Homo sapiens: one gene and its partner. The protein of the gene in region 2 interacts with the protein of the main gene of each other region in a pairwise test. Each region holds a gene or a part of one and is shown on either strand. Other genes may lie near its edges. The genes, in order: PLAC9 and RAPGEF5.

Region 1 (3,811 bases), on a different chromosome or scaffold from region 2:
ACGGGGTTTCACCGTGTTAGCCAGGATGGTCTCGATCTCCTGACCTCATGATCTGCCCGCCTCGGCCTCCCAAAGTGCTGGGATTACAGGCGTGAGCCACCGCGCCTGGCTAAAATTGCAACATTCTTTACCTCTTGTTCCTCCTGTGATTCCTAAGACCTCCAGTCTCTTCAGCCCCCATTTCTCCCAATTCATTGGCCCTCTTCTTGGCCTCATTTCCTTCCTCATCCCAGCTGGATTCCAGGCCTCCTCTCCTAAACCTCTGGCCAAATCTCAGTTCCTTGGCCCCTTGCCTCCACCACATCCATCCTGCAGACTCCTAGGTTTCAGCTCCATCCAGCCATCTGTCTTTGCTGCCCTGCACCCAGACTGTGGAGCACTGCTGGGGGAGGACTCGTGCTTCCAGGATTCCTTGTTGATGCCGGCTCATTCTGCATAGCCCTCCTACACTGCATCCCTCATTCTGCACATCCCCTTTTGAAGCCCTCTCTTTATTCAAGTCCCTTACCTAGTGGTGCACTGATGGACTGGCTCTCAAAAAAAAGTGGGGAGGGGGGTCGTTGATTTCCGTGGTGTAAATGTTCTCATCATGGCCACCATTTTTTTTTTAACTTAAAATTTTTTTTCTTTTTAGAAATGGGGTCTCACTATGTTGATCAGGCTGGTCTTGAACTCCTGGCCTCAAGCGACCCTCCCACTCGGCCTCCCAAAGTGCTAGGATTACAGGCACGAGCTACCATTTCCAGACACCATGGTCACTATTTTAATGTCTGTGTTTAGCAACCTACTCATAGAATTCTTGTAATTTTAACATCTAGCTCTCCTCCCTACGTGATCTCCATCTTACTGCACAGAGTAAATAGAGGCCATCAGGTGGGAGCTCACTCCACTTTTTGGCCCTCTAGTTAGATGGTTTGCCTTTGCCCATTTTTGCTGCATTCCCTCTGTCTTCCTTCGAGATGTGGTCCCACCCCCTCTGGATCCAGGGCCTCCCATCAGTTCAGGAAGTTCATCCTTGGGTTCTCCTGTCTTCCTCCTGTCCCTCAGGCTGTAAGCATGATTGTGTTTTCCAATGCTTTAAAAAAAAAAATGACAACCATAAATACTCCTCTAGACCTTGCGATCCAATCTCCCTTCCTTCACAGCCAAGCTTCGTGAAATTTTCCAGAATCCAAGTTTCCACCCCCAACCTCACCTTCCCTCCTCATCTCATGGTAATCCAAACTCTGCTTTTCCACCACTCCTAAAAGTGCTGGGGTGAAATTTAGCAGGGCCTTTCTGTGCTCTCTTTCCAGTCCTTATCTTGCTAGACCTCTCCGCTGCTTTCGGCCCTGCTGACGCTTTTCATCCTCTGCAGAATCTGTAAAGCTCTTGGCTTCTCTTGACTTCTGGGGCAGCACCCTCCTTCCTGAGTGTCAGCGTTCTCCAAGGTTCCAGCCAACCCTGATGCCCCACAGGCATCTCAGGGTTACCAACTCTGAAACCCAAGCTCGGCATCAGGGCTCTGAGACTTCTGCTCTGAGGGTTGATGGTGCCTGGAAGAGCTAACTCAAGGAGAACAATGGTGAATCAAGAGTTGAGAGGGGTTTCACCATGTTAGCCAGGATGGTCTCAATCTCCTGACCTCGTGCGCCTACCTCGCCCTCCCAAAGTGCTGGGATTACAGGTGTGAGCCACCATGCCTGGCTAAAATTGCAATATTCTTTACCTCTTGTTCCTCCTGTGATTCCTAAGACCTCCAGCCTCTTCAGCCCCCATTTCTCCCAATTTATTGGCCCTCTTCTTGGCCTCATGAGTCCTCTGCTTATGAGTAGTGACTTTGGACACATCCTTTCACCCTTCTGTGCATCAGTTTTCCTACGTGTAGATTGGGCATAACAACAGGTTGTTGGAGAGGTTAAGTTAGCACCCTACATGGTGCATGGTAAGCACTCATCACATGCCAGCTGTTACTAACGGGTTCCCAGTGTCAACGCTGCTACTGAAATATCTCCTTTCATTTTCTTCCTCACTATTCCTACAGCTCCTGCCTCTGCTCATCACTTCTCCTTCACCCCTCTTATCCTGATTGCTGCAGTAACCTCCTGCCTTCAAAGGCATCTCCCTCCAATCTATTCCCTATATTTAAAAAATTCATGTTTGGCTCTGTGACTTTTCTGTTAAAATAACCCCCCTTGGCCTGGCTTGGTGGCTTACACCTGTAATCCCAGCACTTTGGAAGGCTGAGGCGGGTGGATCACCTGAGGTCAGGAGTTTGAGACCAGGCTGACCAACATGGTGAAACCCTGTCTCTGCTAAAAATACAAAAATTAGCAGGGCGTGGTGGCAGGTGCTTGTAATCCCAGCTACTCAGGAGGCTGAGGCAGGAGAATCGCTTGAACCCAGGAGGCGGAGGTTGGAGTGAGCTGAGATCGCACCATTGCACTCCAGCCTGGGCGACAGAGCGAGACTCCATCTCAAAACAAACAAACAAACACACAAAAAAACAAACAAGCATCAGAACTGGTTTATTAAAGCCCCTGGGTTAAAGCTCTGCCCCCTTGGCTTCATTTCCAGGACTTCCCTCTCCAGTCTCTCTCTCCCGCCCACCCTGTATCTCCAGCCACCGCGGGCTCCCTGCAGGTTTTGCACAGTGAGCCCTGCTCTTTCAGACCTCTCCATTGTTGCAGGTGCCATTCTGCCTGGCTGAAGCCCATCCTCCCTTCCTCCCTGGGCTTCACCTCCTTGAGGAAGTTCATCTGGGTCTGTAGGTGACTGTGGCTGTAGAGACTGGTGGGATTGAGATGGCTGACACTCGCACACTGACCCCCACCTGGGCCGTCCTCCGCTTGCTCCTGAGTTTGCTTTGAGGACTGACCTCATTTGAGCCCAGTGTTTACAGGAGTCTCTGGCATTATGGAAAACTAAGGGTCCCACAGTGACAAGACTTGTTTTCCCACAGCTGCCGAACCCTTCAGCCCTCCGCGAGGAGACTCAGCTCAGAGCACAGCGTGTGACAGACACATGGCTGTGCAACGCCGTCTAGATGTCATGGAGGAGGTAACAGGGTGGTTTGGAAGGACATGCGAGTTCAGGACCACCTTCTAGGATGGTGTTTTTATGGGCAGATGCAAGCTTGCTTTGGAATGTGAGGACATCCGGGCCGATCCTGCCCTGTGGCCACCTCGTCCAACATCACCCTCCCATCTAGGCTGCCGGGCTGCCCAGCCCCCAGTGGACCCTGCCTCCCCTAAGGCCTTGCTTACCCCCACCCGGATATTTCAACATCATTACTGGATGGGAAGGTGGAAATTCAGTCACTGTTTTGTTATATAGCCACGATTCCTAACTTGTGTGGGGAAAAGTTTACATCTTTATTGTCACAAGCCTTTAACTGAAATTGAGCATTCTCATTCATCATAAATACAAACAGCGAGCCGTGGTATTAACAGTACTATAACTTTGTCATCAATAGAAATCCAGATAATTTCATCTTCTAGTTATGAATATCTCAACATATAATTTTTATCCTTCCTTATGTCAAAATTTCAGTTGTTATTAGGCCTGATGTTAAATCATGTGATTTAGTGAGTTAATAAATACATTTTATTTTTTTTGAGGCAGGGTCTCTGTCTGTCTACCAGGCTGGAGTGCCGTGGTGCAGTCTCGGCTCACTGCAACTTCCACCTCCCAGGCTCAAGCAATCCTCCCACCTCAGTCTCCCAAGTAGCTGAGACTACAGACACATGTGCCACCATGCCTAGCTAATTTCTGTATTTATTTTGTAGAGGCAAGGTTTTGCTATGTTGCCCAGGCTGGTCTCGAACTCCTG
Region 2 (3,911 bases):
AGTCTACGGTATTTTGTTATGACAGCCTGAGCTGCCTAAGACAAGTTCATATTTCACTTGTTTTTCTCCTTCTTTCAACCCCCTTCCTACTCCTTTGATGGGGAAGATTCCAAAATCACAAAGGTAGTTCCAAGGCAGAAGAAAGGGGAAATAAACAGTCAAATAAATAGTCAAAAAGTATGGGTTTCCAACACTGGAAAAACTGACAATCAAACTTCCTTCAATAAAAACTGGCTATGCAGTTACGAAATGTGTTTGGAAAGTCCCAAAAAGAAATAATACAGTATTAGAATCAAAGAGGGTTAATAAAGCATACATTATCTGAGGTAACCACATTCAGAGTAATTAAAAAATAAAACTAAATAGGTATATTGACAAGGTATACGACACCCTCCCAGGCAGCAAGAAACATGAGTATGAACGCAAATAAATACTATAGATCTATTTATACAGAAACCCTCAGCAATTCTTGTCGCAGACTGCCTGGCAGCCCTCATGTCTTCAGTATTCTGTGCCATGAAAAAGTAACCGTCAAGGATAATAGAAACATAATTTGACCTACTTTTCCCTGGATTCCTGCAAAGTCTATAACTCCAGTTCTTGTTTATTCCGACACCACATCTTGGGGACACATTTCCTCACTTACTTTGCAGGCAATCCTAAATGCCACACATGTTAAGGTCACTTGTGGGCAATTCCTAAACTCTCTGGGTCACCGACTTTAAGAATGTCCCATCACACACAGAGAATCCTCAGAACATCTTCTGAGATGGACCTGGGATGGACCATTTTCCACCTGAGATGGAAAATGCCTAGGAAAAGAGAGATGCAGCCTCGAGAAGCTGAAGACCGACATCAGTTCAGACCCTTCCCTACCCAAAGGAGGGCGCATGAAAACAAGTGGTTATCCCTCACTCTCAAGTTTACACAAACCCATCTCTGAAAGAGCTAGAAGTCTCCCAGCAAGGTCTTGTTTTAAGTCAGACAAGACTGCATTTTAAAAATTACAGCCAAACGGGAAAGAAAAACCACATTGATGCAGCTTCTCATTAAAGACCACTTAATAATAAATTTTTAAAAGATGAGTAGAACCCACCAAAGGTGCCGCCAAACCCTGGTGAGCAGGGAAATCTGAGTAAGTCAGCTCTGTGTCCTGAGGCCCTGGCGGGGCCTCCTAGGTGGCTTCTTAAAGATCCCAGGAGACAATCAGCAGACCTTCCTGCTTCTCTTAAAAATACAAAACATGCCTGACCTGCTCAGGTCATTAGATGCACTTAGAACTCAATGAGGGACACTCCTTCACCAGGAAATCGTATCTGAACACACCATCAGGAAGTCAATATTGAAGGTTCTTGGGGGCGTGCACCCTCCTGCTCAAGAGGGTGTCCAGGAGTATTAAGTGCTGGAGACACCGGAACCCAGGAACTGGAAGCTCACCCAAGAGCTTCCGACTCCTGGGTCTGCCCCTCGGCGGTGGAGACCACCAAAACCAGTCTCGATGCCCAGAGCTTGCAACAGCACCTCCAAAACAAGCACACACGTCGCATGCGTCCTGCAAACAGGGATGCCGCTCGTGGGGCCTGAAGCTTGCGGTTGGGACAGGGCTGGCTGGCTGTTGGACGCTGGACACCTGCAGCTTCCCCTCCGAGAAGAGGCAAACAGCTCGTCTTCAGCCGATGCCCGGTCCCGCAGCCTGAATCTGGGGGCCCTGGGGTTAAGTCAGGTGCAGCCTGGTGGGGGGGAGGTGTGGGGGCGGGGGAAGCCGTCGCTCAGGGGGTGGCACCTCAAAACCCGCCGTCCCGGGCCCCTCTTCAGCCGAGTCCGGCAGAAGGGCGTCCCTTCCGCCACCTCCCCAACTTCCAGACGCCCCCCTCAGCGGCCCGGGGGGTGGGCGCGGGCTCCACGTGCGCGCCGCCCGTGCCCACTCGGACAGGGCCGGGCCACTCACCCGGCCCCCAGCGGCGCTCCGCTTCCTCCGCAGCGTGAGCCCGCTCCGCAGCAGCGCGGGCAGGTCCCTCAGCCGCGGCCGCAGCGACGCCGGCGGCTGCTCGCGCTCGGGCTCCCGGGCGCTGGGGCTGCGGCGCAGGGGGCCGTCTGCCGCCACCACCGCCGCCGCGGCGGCCAGGGCCGGGCTCTCGCACGGCGGCTGCATCTTGACGGAGCCCACGGCCATCCTCATGCCCTGACGGCGCTGCGGCGCCGGGGGCTCCTCTCCACCGCGCTCGCCTCCGCGCGCCGTCCGCGCCTTCGCCAGGAAGCGAGAGGGCGCGACTGCGGCTCGGGCGCGGGGCGCGCTGCCAGCCGCTGCCCATTGGCGCGCGCCGCGGCCCCCGCGAGGCTCAGCCCCGCGCGCCTCCCCTCCCCTCCTCTCTCCTCCCCTCCCCGCCCAGGTGCGCGGGCCCCGCCCCGCCCCGCCCTTTCGCCTGCGAAAGCTGCCTGGGACCTGTCCCCCTCGGATCTCCCACTCGGGACCCGGGAGGAAGAGGGCACCTTGGGCACCGGCTCATCCACAGGTGCAGAATTCCCAGAATCTCCGGCAAACCCGCTCTTCTGTCCTGTCCCTGTCCCCCTACCCCTTAGGCTGAAAAGTCCTGCTTCACTTCTTCGAATAGCCAGGGGTTGACTTGGACTTCAACCAAGTGTGCTGGAGAGTCGTCCGCCCTCCCGCGCGTTTTGCACAGCCTGGCCCCTCATCGTAATCTTTACTCCTGGGAACTGTTTTGGCCAAGGAACTTCAAAATAGACACGCTACAAGGCAAACACCATGAGGCAAAATTGCTTTGCGCCGACCCTTCTTGGCACACGCATCCTTAAAGGACGAAGGGAGAAAACTTTTGTTGGTTATGATAGGTGTTGAGCAGAGTAGCTGCAAGTCTGGTGACCTGAAGGTGAATCTCTGTTAGCATGTCAGAACCTGACCTTCCCTGAAAGCCCGCTGCTGTGATGAATGTGCTTGGTGAACTGTAAAGGCCTGCCGTGGTGTGAATCATTGTTTACACCCTTCCAGGAGGCAGGAATTCTGGATCATTGAGAGTGAAACTATTCCAGCAGTGCCTTAAACGCCAGGGAGTGTGAATGTTCACATCTCAGCTCAATCTGTCTTCAACAAGGGCCAGCCAGGGTGTTGACTTCTCATCAGTGGGGCGCTGGGATCCCCATCTTTGTCTAAGACTTACAAAAGTTGAATAAGCTTATTCACATTTTTAAAAAATGACAAGAATCGTAGGAGGTCAGGGTCCAGAGTTGGTTTACCATTGTGCCCTCAGCCACTCACATGGTAGGTGCTTGGCAAATATGTATAAAAACATGCCATGTAACAAAAAAGGAGGAACGAACTGTGACCTCTGCCCTTAAGGAAGGTAAGACTTAACCTAGGAGTAGACAAACATCCAGAAAAACAAAGATATTGCACTTGTACTCTTGCTAATTGCCAAGTAAGTGTAGGTAAGACCACTTCAGGCCACAGGAGAGAGAAATGCTTCTGGCCTGGGATGGGCAAAGCTAAATCCACGAAAGGAAGGAAGTTTAAACTGCACCTTAAGGGTGAGTGGGGAAGATTCAACCAGGCAGAAGGAGGGTAGGTGTCCTTCAAGTAAGGAAGAAAGACATGAGGCCGGGCGCGGTGGCTCACGCCTGTAATCCCAGCACGTTGGGAGGCTGAGGCGGGCGGATCACGAGGTCAGGAAATCGAGACCATCCTGGCTAACAAGGTGAAACCCCGTCTCTACTAAAAATACAAAAATTAGCCGGTCGTGGTGGTGGGCGCCTGTAGTTCCAGCTACTCGGGAGGCTGAGGCAGGAGAATGGCGTGAACCCGGCAGGCGGAGCTTGCAGTGAGCCAAGATTGCGCCACTGCGCGACAGAGTGAGACTCCGTCTCAAAAAAGAAAAAAAAAAAGAGAGAAAGACATG

The links.
Region 1: the proteins of RAPGEF5 (region 2) and PLAC9 interact in a two-hybrid assay, tested with the Homo sapiens proteins (one large-scale study listed by BioGRID and IntAct).

Annotation. Positions count from the first base shown.
Region 1 is NC_000010.11:80,139,141-80,142,951, forward strand, and holds part of PLAC9 (placenta-specific protein 9 isoform 1 precursor), read left to right. Parts: intron 1-2,941; coding exon 2,942-3,039; intron 3,040-3,811.
Region 2 is NC_000007.14:22,354,882-22,358,792, forward strand, and holds the start of RAPGEF5 (rap guanine nucleotide exchange factor 5), read right to left. Parts: upstream 2,274-3,911; 5' UTR 2,180-2,273; coding exon 1,949-2,179; intron 1-1,948. UniProt on the Homo sapiens protein: Guanine nucleotide exchange factor (GEF) for RAP1A, RAP2A and MRAS/M-Ras-GTP. Its association with MRAS inhibits Rap1 activation.